Linked DNA regions of Homo sapiens. The protein of the gene in region 2 purifies or fractionates together with the protein of the main gene of each other region. This does not show direct contact. Each region holds a gene or a part of one and is shown on either strand. Other genes may lie near its edges.

Region 1 (3,038 bases), on a different chromosome or scaffold from region 2:
GTTCAGGAGAAGCCGGGGACCAGGCCCAGGGGCGAGAGACGGTAGTCCAGGCTTTTCTTTGGAGAGGCTTTGCACAGCTCCCAGCCTCTGCTGGCCTCGGATGGCCCTCCCGCGGCACCTGTGCCGATGGACAGGGTCCTGGGTGCCCGTAGGTTATGGAGCCGGCCCCCTCCTTGGGTCCAGAGCCCCTGGGGATGGCGCCTCATTTTGACCCTGCCCCCGTGGCCTGCGGGTGCTGGGTGTCCTGGCCCCTGCCAGGGTCCTCCTCTGGGTCCCTGTCTCCGCCTCACCTCTGCCTCCCTTCTCCTGTAGAAAGTCCTACCTCCATCTCCGTGGGCCCCAGCACCAGCCGACGGCCCGCAGCCTCCCAAAGACTCTGCCACGCCACTCTCCCCGCAGCCGCCCAGCGAAGAACCAGCCACATCCCCCTGGCCTGCTGAGCAGTCCCCAAAATCACGCACGTCCGAGGAGATGGGGGCTGGAGCCCCCATGCGGGAGCCTGGGAGCCCAGCTGAATCCGAGGGCCGGGACCAGGCCCAGCCGTCCCCGGTAACCCAGCCTGGCGCCTCGGCCTAGGGGAGGGGTGAGACGCTCGCTGCCGTGCCCGCCACACCAAGATGTTGGGGCTGCCTGGCGCCCACTGGAGACAGACAGACAGACGCCTGTCCCCCGGGACCGAGGCCTGTGCCGTCCCCACCCGCCCCAACATGGTGCTCATCCTTGCCGAGACCCCTGCGGTCTGTGCCCGCGCCCAGCCCAGCTGCCCCGGCTGCACGCCTGCTGCTCCCAGCTCGCCCGGCTGCCACAAGCTCTCTGCGGGTCCATCCTCCCCACCGGGGTCCGTCCTCGCAGGCCCTGCCCGGCCTCTCTGCAGACCCTCAAGCGTCGTCTGCATGAGTGAGCAGGCGTGGGTGGACTCTGGCCGCGGCCACACTTGGTGCTCACCAGCTGCTTCGGCCTTCAGGTGACCTCCCTCCCCACGGCATCCTGCTCTCCGGGTGGAAGAGCAGCTTTCTGTCTCCCAGAAGGCATCGCTTTTCCCTCTTGAGCAGATCGGAGCCCCTGGGAGGTTTGGAAGCTGCCTCCAAGCCTAGGACACGGACCAGTGGCCGGGGCGGCCTCTGGCCCCTGACGCTGGCTGAGACAGGCCCGTGGGGCGGGGTTTTGGGGCGTGAACAAGGCTGGCAGTAAGTGGACAAGCTGCTCCCCTGGCTAAGGCCCTGCCCTGCCCTCAGCCAGAGGTGCCTGGCCATGCCTGCACACTCCTCCCCATTTTAATAAATGGTCGCAACTTCTAGAAGTCCTGCTGGTGCCACCTGGTGGGGTGGACGTCTCTCAGACTGCCCTTCTGACAAGCAGGGGTGGGCGCCAGGCAGGCTGGGTCAGGCCCTCAGGGGTCCCTGGAGCCCTGGGAGGGAGGGACTGGGTCGTGGGAGGTCCTGGTAGCTCCCGGCACCCAACCTCGCTTCCCGTGTGGGCCCCGTGTTGCTTTTCTGCTGAGAGGGGCTTGGGCCTCGGTTCTCCCTGTGGCAGCGGCATTGGTGCCTGGGTTCTTAACCCTCTGGACCCAGCAGCTAGGAGCTTCTGGAACCCACGAGGACATCTGCCACTGGCATGGTCTACTCACTGATGGGGTCCTCCTGACTCCAGGGCAGAGACGTCCGTGCGGGAACTGACCGAGGCGTGGCCCCAGGCCCCGGCATCCTCCCCTCGCTGCACGTGGTCACTTCCGAAGCAGCGCTCCCTGTGGCCGCAGAGACAGAGCCCGCACCCTGGCTGTCTGTGGTGCCTGGGCCCCAGCTCCCGCCCGCCACCCGCCCTGTTGAGTGCGGCCTCCAGACTCGAGTCCAGAATCTGTTTCTGTCAAGTCAGTCGTCCCCAGCTGCACACGGGGACTGCTGAGCGCTGCGCTCTCACGGGTCTGTTCCGGACAGAGGGTGGCAGGGGTGAGCCCTGATCCCTTACAAAAAATACCAGCTTCCCAGGGAGTAATGGCGCCTTCACTGAAGCCATTTTGTACATGGGGACGGGGTGGGGACGTCTCTTTTTTGGTGTTGGACGTTTGACCAGTGGGGAGGGGTTCAGAGGCGGCGGTCCTGTCCTTGGCTCCGTCTGTCCGTGTGGCCTTGCTGCCATTCCGTCTGATCATTAAACACAGCTTTTGATACATATGGCCCGGCCTCTGCCTCCGCAGTGCACGGCTTGGGGCATCTGCTCTGTGCAGGTCCCGGTGAGCAGAACTGAGAGCTGGCAGGCCGCCTGGCTGTCCTGCAGAGGACGGATTGGAATTGCCACCGCAGGGCCGGCCAGTGCTGTGAGGTGCCCAGCGTCACTCCCATGGGCTCTGTGGGCCATGTGGTCCCTGTCACGCTTCTCAGCTCTGCCACTGTTGCTGGAAAGCATCACAGACCATGTGTAAAATGGGCCAAAATACCTTTTACAAAATTAAAATAGAGATGGGGTCTTGCAGTGTTGCTGAGGCTGATCTCGAACTGCTGAGCTCAGACAATCCTCCTGTCTCGGCCTCCCAAAGCGCTGCAATTACAGGCACGAGCCACCACGCCCATCCCTCAAGTAATTTTCTCGCCAGACCCTGAAATTGGAATTGTATAGCATCCTCACGTCTCAAAAGAGTTTATTATTATTTTTTTCTCTTTAAAAATGCAAAGACCTGTCTTAGCCGCTTTGGGACAAGGTTTGGTTTCCAGCTGCTGCTGGCTGGCGCTGGGCCTGTGGGCACGTGGGTGATGGATGCGGGTTTGTGTGCGGGCCGAGAGGCCAGTGAGTCCTGAGCATCTGCCAGGCATCAGGGGCTGCTGTGTGTGTTGTTCTAGTCTCACAAAGTTCTCCGCTACGTTAGAGAAAGTGAGACCCAGGCTGGGCATGGTGGCTCACGCCTGTAACCCCAGTGCTTTGGGAGGCTGAGGTGGGAGGATTGCTTGAGCCTGGGAGTTTAAGACCAGCCTGGGCAACGTAGCAAGACCCCATTTCTACACAAATTACCTGGGTGTGGTGGCACACACCTGTAGTCCCAGCTG
Region 2 (7,126 bases):
CTAGCTTACAGTTAATAAAAATTATCCATTTGAAATTATTTTTGCAGACATTTTTGCGTATATGCTATATGGTGTCCTTATGAACAGCTTTTTTTTTCTACTGAAATTTAACAAGTTAAAAAGAAATAGATTTAGAAGAAGCTTCCTGGAGAAATGTTTTTCCTGTTTAAAAGTTCTTTACCAGTTTTTTTTAAGTTACAATAAAAAGCATTGTGAGTCATCCATACGCAGTTTTTTTGTATTACGTATGGATCAAATACTTCCAGAAACATGACAATGTGTAATGAATTCATCCCCTTCACCAGTAACTTTATTTTAATATGGCTCTATTACAAATGAAAAATCAATAAACCACCATTCAGTTTCTTTGAAGTAGACTCTTGCCTCTCCTTCCAACACTCTAGAAATATGCCATTGGTTGCCTAAAGCCTTGAACTTCGTTTGTCAATTCAGGTGCATTGTTTCCTTGGCTGTTAGGTCTGCCTGTTTCCTCAGGCTAATTATGAAATCATCTGCTCCGCCAGGAAGAAGCACACAGCTGAAGAGCATCATCCTGTGTTCCAGCATTACTGTGGAGCATGTGTCCTTATTACTAATGCACAAAGCACGACACTTGGAGAAGTCTCTTCGTTGCCTGGAAATTGGGGGGCATAATCTGAAGACTTATAAATATCTCTTAACAAAGCACCAGCTGAGCTGTGTCAGGGTTGCACACTCTCTTCATCTCTCCCTTACAGCCTTTCAATTTGCTTTCCAAACATTTCTTTGTCGCCGTTGGCTGGGGTGTGCTTAAAAGAAGCACATCGTTAACCACAAAGAATGCTCACTGTTTTCTGTGATTTCAAATCAGTTCCAAGCACTTCCTCAGCAAGTGGCCCGGCAGCAATTACCCTGCTGCTGAAGACACTTCGCATCACAGGCCTCAGTTTTTGAGACAAGCAAGCAAGGCTGTAAGAAATGATAACATATGTTTCAGCCTCCATTCACCAGCGATTTATACCCCCATAAGAAGGGTGAATCAATTTTCATGCAAATTCAACAGGCATATTCAACAACGTTGCTCTCTTCTCTAATTCACACAAACTCAGCATTCATCGGCTGCATTACTTGCCTCAAATGGGCACTCACAGTTGCTAAATGATTCGGGCGGGGGTGGAGTTGCTCTGTGTCAAAAAGGGGCAAAGAACAAGGAAAGGACATGAATCCATCAGGGCAATGAGAGCTGAACTGATTCACTGAGACAAAATAGTGAGGTTTTGAAAAGCCAGTGCAAAAGGAGATGGCTTCCCACCTCACCCTGACACTTCTGTGAAAGATGGTGTAGAAACTGACCTCGGCAGCATTCAAGGGAAATGTTTCCACAAGCATGAGCTGCTCCAGAACAATTTATCCAATAGATTATGTTGAGATAGGCTTCACTTTACAACCACATTTCTCTCTTTTCTTTCCCATCTTGATCATACCTGTTAATATCCTCTTTGCGGAAATATCTCCAGAAGGAGTCAAAAAGGTTAAAATGGGCAGCGCAAATTTCCATATGCCAGGTCCCTGGATATAGTTTTAAAGGGCCTGTGGCCTTAAGTAAAATCTGATTTCTTAACTCCACAGGTCTGCAGGTAAATGTCACACTGCCCTCTGGAGGTAGTCTCATTGGATCTAACCCTGAATTAATGATTGCCAGCTACTGAAAAATATATGGTTGCTGAATTTCAGAAGTCTTTTTCTAGGGTGGAGAGGGTATAGAATAGGAGGACAGTTGAAAAATTACCAACTGCTTCCAACTCCTTGTGAGTGGAGTGAGTGTGTGTGTGTGTGTGTCAGACAGAGAAGGGGGTGGGAAAAGGAAAGGAGAATAAGTAAAGATTGCCCCCAATTTCAGTAGTGCCAACAGAGAAAGGATGCATGTAGACAGGAAGCTTCAAGATGGCTGACTAAATGCATCTGGTACTCACCTTTTCCAGAGAGAGGAGCTAAAATAGCAATTAGATAATCACATTTTGAATAGATCATCTGAGAGAGAATACTGGAATTCAACAGAGAAGTGATGGGAAGCACTGAAAGCAAGGAAGGAGAGGGAAGCAAGGAAGCCAGCTTAGCTGGGATCAGCTGGGAGCCCGGAGAGGCTCCTTAATGTGAGGAAAGGGTAAGTGAGAGACACCAAGTGGTCCACATTCCTGCCACAGAATTCTACAATGCTAGCCATAGGAGAGCCCCTGGACTCTCATGGGCCCTGAGACTCACAGAGAACTGCCTAGAGATCACATAATGGCATTGTTCTAGACAGGGAGCTCATGCTGAGTCCTACAAACCCCCAAGTCCTAAGCAGCTGCAGCACTGTGCCATTATGAAAGCCCCGCCCCTGCCAGAATGTGTTCTGCCTGGGGGCCCAAGAGCCCCTGCACCTCCATATCCCTGGAGCCCAACTGACACTCATCACCCACAGACACCACTGTTGGGCTGAGGCAGGAGCCACTGGAAGTGACCTTGCCACCCCAACAAAAAGGCAGCTATACATTTTCATGTGCCATCTGCAGGACTGAGGACCAGCTTGCCCAGTTCATCATGGACATCACCAACACCAGCACTGACCACTTGGGTTCCAGAAAGTTGTCCCACCACAGCTACTGCCATTGCCACAGCATACCTGCTACCCAGAAGCATGATAACCTGCCCATCCTCCTGACCCACCATGATATTCCCAGCACCTGGAGAGGCTAATGCTCAACCCACTGCTGCCACCACTGAGGCCCAAAGACTGGCCCACCTAATGTCCTAGTTCCCAGCAAAACTTCACCACAACCTCCACTAATAATCACACCCTAAACCACTGAGGAAATCACAGACACCACTGACACTGTTTACAGCTGGAAAAATTACACAGAGACTATACAACCACCCACACCTAGAGTCAAGGCCAAAGTGCCCTACCCAGCCAACACCGTAGATAAATCTTCAAGAAATGTCATCCCCTATGAAAGCAAATTCAAAAAACTGGAGCAACTGTTATATCAGATGCACAAATGATCAATGTAAGGACACAAGAAGCATGAAAAAATAAGGAAATATGGTATCTCCAAAGGCACACCATAATTATCCAGCAACAGATTCTCATCAAAAAGAAATTTAAGAAATACCCCCCAAAAAAGAATTCAAAATATTGATTTTAAAGAAGCTCAGTAAGACACAACAGAATACTGAAAAATAATGCAAAGAAACCAGAAAAGCAATTCAGGAAATAAATGAGAAATTTACCAAAGAGATAGATGTCATAAAAAAAGAGACCAAACAGAAATTCTACAACTGAAGAATTCATTGAATTAAATAAAAAATACATTCTAAAGTTTCAACAACAGACTAGATGAAGCAAAAGAATCTCAGAACTTGAAGAGAGGTATTTTGAAATAACTCAGACAAAAATAAATTAAAAGGATAAAAAAAGAATGAGCAAAGCCTATATAACATCATAAAGTGACCAAGTATTTGAATTTAGGATCTGAGAAGGTGAAGAGAAAATGAAGGAGTTAGAAAACCTATTTAACAAAACAATAGATAAAAACTTCCCAAGTCTTGCAAAAAACTTTAGATATCCAGAAACAAGAGGCTCAAAGTTCTCCATATAGATACAATTCAAAAAGTTCTTCTGCTCAGCACATTATAGTCAAAATATCAGAGGTGAAAGACACAGAGAAAACTCAAAAAAGCAAGAGAAAAGCATCAAGTCACTTATAAAGGTACGTCTGTCAGACTAGACTAACAGCAGAAACCTTATAGACTAGGAAAGAATGGGCTGATATATTCAAGATGCTGAAAGGAAAAAAAACTGCCAACCAAGGATACCATACCCAGAAAAGTTATTCTTTATAAAATGAAAGAGAAATGAAGTCTTTCCCAGACAAGCAAAAGCTGAGGGAATTTATCACCACTAGACCAGATCTATAAGAAATGCCAAGGGAGTCCTACACCCAAAAGTGAAAGAACAATATCTAATATCATTAAAACACATGAAATATAAAAACTACTAGAGCAAACATACAAAGAAGGAAAAGACTAGAAGGTTACCACTACAGAAAAACCACAAAACCACAATAATAAAAAATAAGAGAGTAAGAAAGGAACAGAGGATACACAAAACAACTAGAAATCAGTTAATAAAATAAGAAGAATAAGCTCTCACATATCAATAATAACCCGGAATGTAAACAAATTAAAACTTTCACTTAAAAATACAGACTGGCTGAATGGGTTAAAAAACATGACCTGACTATACACTGCTTACCATACTCATCTCACCTGTAAAGCCATATACTAACTGAAATTAAAGGATGGGAAAAGAACTTCCATGCAAACAAAAATCAAAAGTGAGCATGAGTGGCTATGCTTATATCAGGTGAAACATACCTTAAGTATAAAACACTAAAAAGTGACAAAGAATGTCATTATGTAATAATAAAGGGATCAACTCAGCAAGAGCTGCATATATATTTAGAAATACAACAATTCTAAATACATATGCACTCAACACCAAAACACCCAGATCTATAAAGCAATTATTATTAGATCTAAAGGGAGTGATAGACTCCAACACAGTAATAGGAACGTTAATAGCCCACTCTCAGCATTAGACAGGTCATCTAAACAGAAAATTAACAAAGAAACATTGGATTTAAATTACACATTAGACTAAATGGACCTAACAGACATTTACAGAACATTTCATCCAACAGCTACAGAATATACATTCCTCTCATCAGCACATGAAACATTCCTTAGGACAGCCCATATGTGAGGACACAAAACAAGTCTCAACAAATTTTAAAAAATCGAAATCATATCAAGTATCTTCTCAGACCACAATGAAATAAAACTGGAAACCAATAACAAGAGGAACTTTGGAAACTGCACAAATACATGAAAATTAAACAACATACTCCTGAATGACCAATGGGTCAAGAAAGAAATTAAAGAGGAAAAAAAAATTCTGAAATAAAATGGAAACATAACATATCAAAACCTATAGGGTACAGTAAAAGCAGTGCTAACAGGAAAGTTTATAGCAACAAACACCTACATCAAAAAGTAGAAAGATTTCAAATAAATGATCTAATAATTCACCTAAAAAAAACTAGAAGAACAAGAAAAACCACACCCAAAATTAGTAGGAGAAAAGAAATAATAAAGATCAGAGCAACACTAAACAAAACAGAGACAAAAAAAATACAAAGGATCAATAAAAGGAAGTTAGTTTTTTGAAAAGATTAACAAACTTGATAAACAACTTGCTAGAATAACCAAGAAAAAAAGAGAATACCCACATAAAATCAAAAATGAAAAAATAGACAAGTATAACTGATATCAAAGAAATGCAACAGATTATCAGGGACTATTATGAACAACAATACACTCACAAACTAGAAAACCTAGAGGAAATAGATAAATTCCTTGACTCATACAACCTACCAAGACTGAATCAAGAAGAACTAAAAAACCTGAATAGACCAACAATCAGTAATGAGATTGAATCAGTAATAAAAAGTCTCCCCCAACATAGAAAGTCCAAGACTTGGGGCTTCACTGCTGAATTCCCATGTGACTGTCTTCTTACGTGATGTTCAGATAGAGTCTACATTCCCTCTTGAATCTAGTGGGCTTGTGACCACAGTGAAAGACTAAGTCATAAAAGGCTGTACAGTTGCCACCTGGCCTCTTGGTTCCCTCTTGGGACCTGCCACCATGCTGTGACAAAGTCAAGCAGCCACACAGAGAGGCTATGATCCTACCACAGCACCAGGCAAGGTCCCTGCCAAGAGCCAACATCAACTGCCAGCCATAACTTCAAGGAAACAAGGCTTCATATTCTTCCAACCACCCACTTTGGAGTTGTCCCCACCAAATTTCAGACTTGTGAGCAAAAGAAATTTGTCATTGCGTTAAGCTACTCTGTATGGAGATGGTTTGTTACCAAGAATAGACAGCCAGAACAATGGGCAAAGCCCCCAATACTGGACCCATTTCCTGGCATAGAATAGAACTGGCCTAAAAAGAAATGGGACTTGCTTCTCTGCCTTTCATGAATTTTCATTATTTGGGTTGATTCTTTATTAACATTAGACTTTCTCTCTGAGTCCCAGATTAGGCTGTCTATAAGATATATCCCAGCTGAAATTGTGTGTGAGTGTGTGTGAATGCACACTATATGATGGTTGAATTGTTGCCAGTATTTAGTAATTAGATTTTTATTTAAACACACACACACACACTCACAGAGAGAGAGAGAGAGAGAGAGACAGAAAGAAAGAAAGAAAGAAAGAAAGAAAGAAAGAAAGAAAGAAAGAAAGAAAGAAAGAAAGAAAAAGAAAGAGTAAAGAGAATCTAAATTTTGTCTTCTCTCAAAATAAAAGAACAAACAGAAGATCTGGCAATACTGAATTTACATTCCTTTTTAACAGTAATTCACTCACAAAACCCCCAGTTCCCTCAGTGCCATCTCCTCTCTGTTGCATTACATCCTGCCTGTTCCATTCAAGCTCTCATCACTCTTTTTTCTCATTTTTTAATTTATATAAATGTATGCGTTACAAGTGCAGATTCTTTACACACAGAGATTGCATAGTGGTGAAGTCAGGGCTTTTAGTGTATCCATAACCCAAATAACATACATTGTAACAAATAAGTAATTTCTATTCCTCCACACCTTCCCACTCCTTCACCCTTTTGAGTCTCTATTGTCTATCATTCCACACTCCACATCCTTGTGTACACATTATTTATCTCCCACTTATAAGTGAGAACATGCAGTATTTATCTTTCTGCATCTAGCTTGTTTCACTTAAGTTAATGGCCTCCAGTCACTCTTAGATTTATTTCCTGACATCTATAGACATTTGGACTTGTGACATCTATTAAGCCAATGATTCTCTACCTGATCGATAAAAATTTACACTTACATAGTTCTCAAGGAGTTAACACCCTTTTGAAAGAAGAGTTTAATATAATTAGGAAAATAAAAGTCAGAAAAATTTTTAAAAACTAAAGTTTTAGTTTAAAATTAAATTTAAAAGGATAAAATAAAATACATGCCAAAAAGCCACATGATGAGGTGACTAGGATAGCAACTTAGGTTATTATC
Region 3 (7,126 bases), on a different chromosome or scaffold from region 2:
CATGCTTATGCCCTAGATAGGCATAGATAGGCCCTAGATAGGCAATATTTTTAATTTCATTAGAAATGAAATTTCATTAGAAATTAAAAATATTCATCAAGTTTAAACTAAAAGAAGCAGTAGGCTAATACACACTGAACTGGGGGTGGGGGTACACATGATTCTCTCTTAGCCACATTTTCAACCAGCTTTATGTTCTTGAAGTGTAATGACTCACTCTCAACTTGAGTGGCTCTAATTCTGTGGGATTACTAGCATGCAACCATCACTAACCCTATGAAAGCGATTGGTATAAAGTCCCATGCAAAGCATACAAACCCAATAAAAAACAGGCCATTCTTCCTTGGCAAGACACTCATCTGGGTGATGAGTCATCTAAGATGGAGGGTGACAGCAGGAAAAAATGTTAGGGTTTGCCTTCTACCCTCAAGATGGGCCTGAAGAGTATCACCCTGTAGTCGGGCACTTCATCATTTCTCAAAGGAGTCCGCATAGAACAGTGAATAGTATGAGTGACATCAACTTTCATATGCCATGCTTGCCCTGGTTTATAAGGAAACTATACACACACATTTATAAATAAGGAAATATAAGCTCTTTAGCTCTTACATATTAGCTAATATATACATTAGCGCTTATAAAAGATGACAGGACAACCCACCATAGGGATTGTTTGCAAATGCTGGGGATAAATTAGAGAAGGAACAAAATGAGGAAGTACCTTGGAAGAAGCTCATGTTTGACTGTTTTCAGATGCAACAGAGAATTTTCTGCTTCTTCAAATTTAAAAATTTCCACTGTATTCTTGAATTCTGGGTGGTTTACAACAAAGAGATAAACTGTGTCATCTAAAGAATTGAAAGAACAGAGTTAATTTACAAGACATAACTACGGGACCTCTGGGCAGGCACTGACATTTAAATACCACAGGCAAGGAAAGGTTGAATGTATAAGCTGTTAGACGACCTAACAGATCATTCTCTGTCTTTCCTATTGCTGTCCGTCTGGTGTTATTTCTGATCATTGGCTCCCTGACCTTTAAGAAAGTGTTTCCTACTCCATATACAGAATTCATGCATAATCTGTTTCTACTTTAATTCAAAAATACAGTTCTTTTTTAAATGTGATGATCGTAGGTATATGAAAAGATTATGAAATCTAAACATTCTTTCAGGTGTTACCTGTTAGGAATTTCAAAATGTAGCATAACTTACTGCCAGCTGAAGAGGCAAATGAACAAGTTCTTTGTAATGAAGAATACAGAAATCACTCATGAGTTAATTGTTCTTCTCTTCCTAGAAATATGATCCAAATCTATTTTTCACAGTCATTTGTGAACCATCACACGTTACTAAATGTTGGTAGCCCATTGGCTCTTACCGTTGTCTATGAAAGTGCTGATGCCATGTGGATTGAATGAGGCCAAATCAAACCCACGACTGATTCTTAATTCCCGTGCCCTTGGTTTTTCTTCTTTTAGATCCATCATTAGTATTCCTCCAGGCTTATCTGGTGCAAAGCTGTGGAGTCCTGGGAATTTTAGACCCTTTCCAAAACGGTGAAAAATGTTAAATACAAAAGCTTAAGTATTTTTATGGACTAACATGGGAACTGTACATGAAGGATAAATAGAGATTGTGGTTAAAGTAGTGGCATAAAGCCACAAAAACTCAAAAAACAGAGAAAAGATAACAGAAAAAATAATAACGGGGAGGTGGAATACTGAAAGCCTGAAAATAACTGAAAAGAAGATCAGGGATTTATTCTCTTCAGAGAGTAATCAGAAGGTTGGTGGACTAGGTGATTCCAGGGAGAGCTGAGGGTGGAGAAAAGTGACATCTACATACTGACTGTGGAAATTTGTTCACTGCTAGATCCCAGTGCCTGGAACAGTGCCTGGCATACAGTCCATCCTTCTCCCACTGATTCAAAATATCACCTTTATCATGTGCTAGATCTCTGACATTTACATATTGGTCTATTTAGGGACTCTCTGTTTTGTTATTTTAATGTCTCATGTCTATTCCTGTGCCAATATAACACTTTTTAAATTACTACAGCTTTAGGTCAGGCCTGGTGGCTCATGCCTATAATTCCAGCACTTTGGGAGGCTGACGTGGGAGGACTGCTTGAGGCCAGCAGTTTGAGACCAGCCTGGGCAACATAGCAAGACTCTGTCTCTACAAAAAAAAAAAAAAAAAAAAAAAAAAAAATTAGCTGAGTGTTATGGTGAGCACTTGTAGTCCTAGCTGCTCGGAAGGCTGAGGTGGAAGGACCTCTTGAGCGCAGGAGTTTAGGAGTTCAGGCTGCAGTGAGCTATGATTGCACTACTGCACATCAGCCTGGGCAATTGAGCCAGTCCCTGCTTCTCTAATGACAGTTTTGTCTTTTTCTTTTCTATCTCACATTTCTTTTTCTCGTTTTACTGAATTACTAAGAACTCTAGTAGATTACTGATGGTTGTGGTGTTGGGTATTTTCTTCCTGTTCTGAGCATTAATGCAAATGCAGCCAATGCTTCACCATCAAGAATGATGTTTGCTGTAGTTTTGTGGGAATTTTCCTTATCTTTCTAGTTTGCTTGGAACTTTAGGAATGAGTATTGAATTTTATTAAATGCTTTTTGGTACTCACTGAGATGATATAGGTCTTTTCTCTTTTAAATCAGTTAATAAATTACCTATCAGTCTATCTAAAATGGTGATTCATCATTACATTCTTAAGGTAAAGCCTTCTTGGTGATGTTAAATTTTATGTGAATGCACTACCTAATTCAGTTTACTAATACGATGCAGTCATATTTACACAAATTTAGGCACACAATAAAAAAGTCTTACTTTATGTATAAAATTGGACATAAGAGGAAATCTCTCCAATTAAAAAAGATTATCTACAATTGTATATTTTCATGGAGGGCAAGCCTGGTAAGTAGAACAAACTGGAATTATGCTATTGTTACATGGCAGTGCCACTTCAGTTAATCCCTATTCTTTATGAATGTCCCCAAAACAAAAGCATGATTTACATGCAAAGGAAGCACTATCAGATGGTGATAACTAGTCATGGTTATGTTCGCACTCCTTATTTATTTAAGTATTTTTTCTCTTTTTAAAAATTTATTTTTAATTATGATAAAATACATACAACATTCATCACTTTCACCATTTTTAAGTGTACAGTTCAGTGGTGTTAAGCACACTCACATTGTTTACATTTTTTATATTTTATTCTATGTCATCCAATTCTTCATGAAGTGTGACATTAGTTTTGAGGTGACCCTCAACCCATAACTGTAAAATAGGTTGGGTTAGATGAGCTAAAATGCTAGGAAGAAGAATGAACAACCTCCACAATGTAGGACCTCTTTATTTAGAAGAGAGTACACTCTAGGTTTTATTAGAGACAATGCCAAGTAAATGAAAAACAGCAGCAAACTGGGAATGTTTCTAAATTTTAAAAAAAGTCAAATGAGCAAAGGAGGGTAACAGAAAAAAAGCAGAAAAAGTTCTATTGATATGGCTATAAGATCTTTGTAACTATAACATGCCCCCAAGCTAAAATGGCTGTAGATTTATGTGTTTGGAGACCTCATCCCTCCTACTTCAGATTTATTACTATGGGGGCTGGAGAGAAATCTTGAAATAGGTGAATTCTAGATTATAAAAATCTCCAAGAACACATCCTTGCAAAACAACAACAAAAAACACAAATAAACAAATAAAAAAATCAATGCAACTGCCTTCTACTTTATTCAGAATGTTTGCATCTTTACTTATGAATATTTTAGACTAGTGGTCCCAGTGGTTTTTCCTAAGCCACACATGTGCAAGCATGTGCTCCTAAACAAACCCAGAGTCCTACTATAAATATCACTTTATTCATTCTGTGTAGGCAATTAAATAAAACATTCCTTTTAAAACCTTATTTTAAAAACTAAATACATATACTGGTGTTTCTGCTAAAGCCCACAGTATCTCTTTATTGCCTCAGTGGTAATAACCAGCTGCTCACTGTCTTTCACATAAAAACCATCAGGAACCTGAAGAGTGTTCTAATTCTCATTCTACTCCAACCTGAGTTCTCTCACCTTTCTCATAAGTCTAACAACTATTTTATTAGTGTGGTGACTCCCTTCTAAGTATCTCCCAGTATTTCACATCCCTCTTGAGTCTCAGAGCCTGAAAATAATGGATGTTGAGAGGAAATGGAATAATTACAGTCAGGTGTCAGAGTTGGTTACTTCTTCCTCCAGAAAAACTGGACCTATGAAGATGCCAAGAACTCCTATGTCTGCCCAAGCCAGGGAGGTAGGTGGTCAGAACCTCCTCATCTGTCCCCTTATCTGGATTTCCAATTAGAATGGACATTGTTACAAGCTAGTTTCAACAATATTCACAACAATATTCACAAGCCAATTGTTTTTAAAGTCTTTCTATTGTATACCCAGAAAGGATATTGTTTTTCAGCTTACAAGAATCAAGGCAAAATGAAGGGTGTAAATAAACTCAATGACTTTCCACTTATGATTGGCTATTCAGGGGAAAAAAGAAAGAAAGCAAAAGGGCAAGGTTGGTATAATATTTGAAAATAAATAATAATGGCAAGAATATTTGCTTCAAGTTGAATAGTAATAGAAAGATGAGTAGATGCTGTATTTAAAATAGTATAATGTTAGTATTGAGTATCCACAGTAAGACCTCAAATATCCCTCTTAATAGTGCACATTTAAAACACAGATTGCGCTGGGCGTGGTGGCTCACTCCCGTAATGCCAGCACTTTGGGAGGCTGAGGCAGGCGATCACCTGAGGTCAGGTGTTTGAGACCAGCCTGGCCAACACGGCGAAACCCCATCTCTACTAAAAATACAAAAATTAGCCGGGCATGGTGGCGGGCGCCTGTAATCCCAGCTACTCGGGAGGCTGAGGCAAAAGAATTGCTTGAACCCGGGAGGCGGAGGTTGCAGTAAGCTGAGATCATGCCACTGCACTCCAGCCGGGGCAACCAGAACAAGACTCCGTCTCAAAAAATAAAAAAAATTAAAAAAGAAAAAACAAAACAAAACACAGATTGCATTGGAATATTTTAGTGCAATGCAATGGGGAAATAAAGAACACTATCTCAATGGGCAAAGAGTCTTCATCTCTACATTTAGAAAAGCTGGAGGAAGTTTTCCAAGATCTTGTTTGACCTCTCTTTTCTTCAGAATGCATTTTGGAAAATGAATTTTAAAAGCAACTTACTGTTCTGCAGCCCTCATCAAATACCCTTGTATCTCCTCTGCTGAATTTGGGGAAGGAAGAAGACACTCACCACACTAAAAAAAGCCAGACCATTGGGAAGTATGTCAATATCTTCAGAGCCAGCTTCTGTAAGTTTAAGGAACAGATAAATGTCATGTTCAAGTTCTGTTATTTGTTACACAGAGCATAACTGGGACTCTGTTTACTTTATCAGAGTGACTGTATCTTTAGGGATGGTTCTGATGTTTTTTCCAAGGAACCATTCTTTTTAATAAATGTCAGTTTAAACCCCTTCCTGAAGTGAACTTCTGACTTTAAATGTTAGATATTTTATGTTTACTCAAATCAAAGTCAAGTTATCACCACATTTCCAGCTATAATACTGAAAAAGTTGACATCTGTACACTCTCATGATAAACATCCAGATGTCCGTATAAAAGTAATTGACATCAGGGGAATATTACTTTCTGAAGGAAGGGCTCATAGGCATTTAACCATGCAAATATCCTTGTCCTCTTCTTTGCTCATTCAATCTGAAGCAAACAGACATCTTTCTCATTAACAGAGGTAAAACACCTGGGATTATATATTCCTTCTTTTAAAAACAGTGCCTACTTGTGCTCATAAGCAAAGAAAGCTTTTCTATTTAATCTTTAAATTTAGGCTTTAAATTAGAGAAAAAAACTAGCAGAAGAAAATTAATGAAAAATACCATGCACCTAAGCCAGTTGAAGTTTCTAACTCCTGTCTCTGAGGCAGGCTACAATTACTATTGATTGTTTATTGACTGTCTGCAGTACACTCCACACAGCACAGCAAATAATTAGACATAAGACTTTCCCCAGCAGTCTCACTGTATAAATTCTACAGACAGATAATAGACCCAAACACAAGAAAAGAAGAATAAAAATGGCTTAGATTAAGCCAAACCATGACACATTCTTTGAGTCTACAAAATCCAATCTTCCTCTTTAAGACTTCTCCATAGGATTTCTTCAAGGTTATTTCTAGGTTGTCAAAACCAAACAGCATCTATCTATCCAGCCATTTTGGTCTTGCTTCATGAGTTTGCATTTAGCCAGTTGCCTCCAGTGTTGCTTGCTCCATCGTAGTGCAGAAAAACAAAACAAAATAAAAATGCCAAGAACTTCACATTGTAAAGATGACCCATCTGCCTGCTCCTCAGAAAGAAGATACACAGAAATAAGCTTAAGCATGGCATAGCGGAGGAGTTCTCAATCTGGGGTCTGTGGATCACTTTTGGGCTTCAAAGTATCTGTGAACCCTCGGAAATTCTATGCAATGCAAAATGTCTCATGTATGCACAGATGAGAACGTTTCTGTAAAAACGGTCCTTGATTTTCATCAGATTCAAAAAAGAGACTGTGATTCCCCCAAAAAGGTTAAGAATGACTAGACTCTAGTTCCACGGTGGTTGTCCACTGGTAATAAGTTAAGAATCAGGGGAACGCTACACCACATACACATGTATACACAGCACATACACATGTACACACAGACACACACACACACACACACACACACACACACACACCGAGAGAGAATTCTAGTCCAGGTTTTGCTTTTCAGTCCTATTTAGTAGAAGCTCAATTAATTAAAATTTGTTTTTCCTGAAAATTATTTTAGAAAATTTAATTTCCAAGTATACACGTGGAAAAAGAAGATATATAGAAAAAATTAACAATGCTTCTTTGATAGGATTATGAATGATTTTTATTTTTTTCTTTATACTTTGTTTAAAATTTTCTACAAAATTGTATATTTTTTAATAATTAAGGAAAGAGAAATCTTTTTTTAAAAAAATACATTTATTTCAACCATATTGTAACTTCTGTTTAACTCCATTGCCTAATTCCAATGGAAAA

The links.
Region 1: the proteins of MOXD1 (region 2) and SPPL2B purify together in Homo sapiens (affinity purification with mass spectrometry; 2 studies listed by BioGRID and IntAct, with this or other methods). This does not show direct contact.
Region 3: the proteins of MOXD1 (region 2) and PON2 purify together in Homo sapiens (affinity purification with mass spectrometry; 2 studies listed by BioGRID and IntAct, with this or other methods). This does not show direct contact.

The regions. Positions count from the first base shown.
Region 1 is NC_000019.10:2,352,634-2,355,671, forward strand, and holds the end of SPPL2B (signal peptide peptidase-like 2B isoform 2 precursor), read left to right. Parts: intron 1-312; coding exon 313-576; 3' UTR 577-2,462; downstream 2,463-3,038. UniProt on the Homo sapiens protein: Intramembrane-cleaving aspartic protease (I-CLiP) that cleaves type II membrane signal peptides in the hydrophobic plane of the membrane. Functions in ITM2B and TNF processing.
Region 2 is NC_000006.12:132,391,352-132,398,477, forward strand, and holds part of MOXD1 (DBH-like monooxygenase protein 1 precursor), read right to left. Parts: intron 909-7,126; exon of another isoform or gene 359-908; coding exon of another isoform or gene 356-358; intron 1-355.
Region 3 is NC_000007.14:95,410,932-95,418,057, forward strand, and holds part of PON2 (serum paraoxonase/arylesterase 2), read right to left. Parts: intron 5,367-7,126; coding exon 5,311-5,366; exon of another isoform or gene 5,258-5,310; coding exon of another isoform or gene 5,241-5,257; intron 1,547-5,240; coding exon 1,381-1,546; intron 849-1,380; coding exon 722-848; intron 1-721. UniProt on the Homo sapiens protein: Capable of hydrolyzing lactones and a number of aromatic carboxylic acid esters. Has antioxidant activity. Is not associated with high density lipoprotein.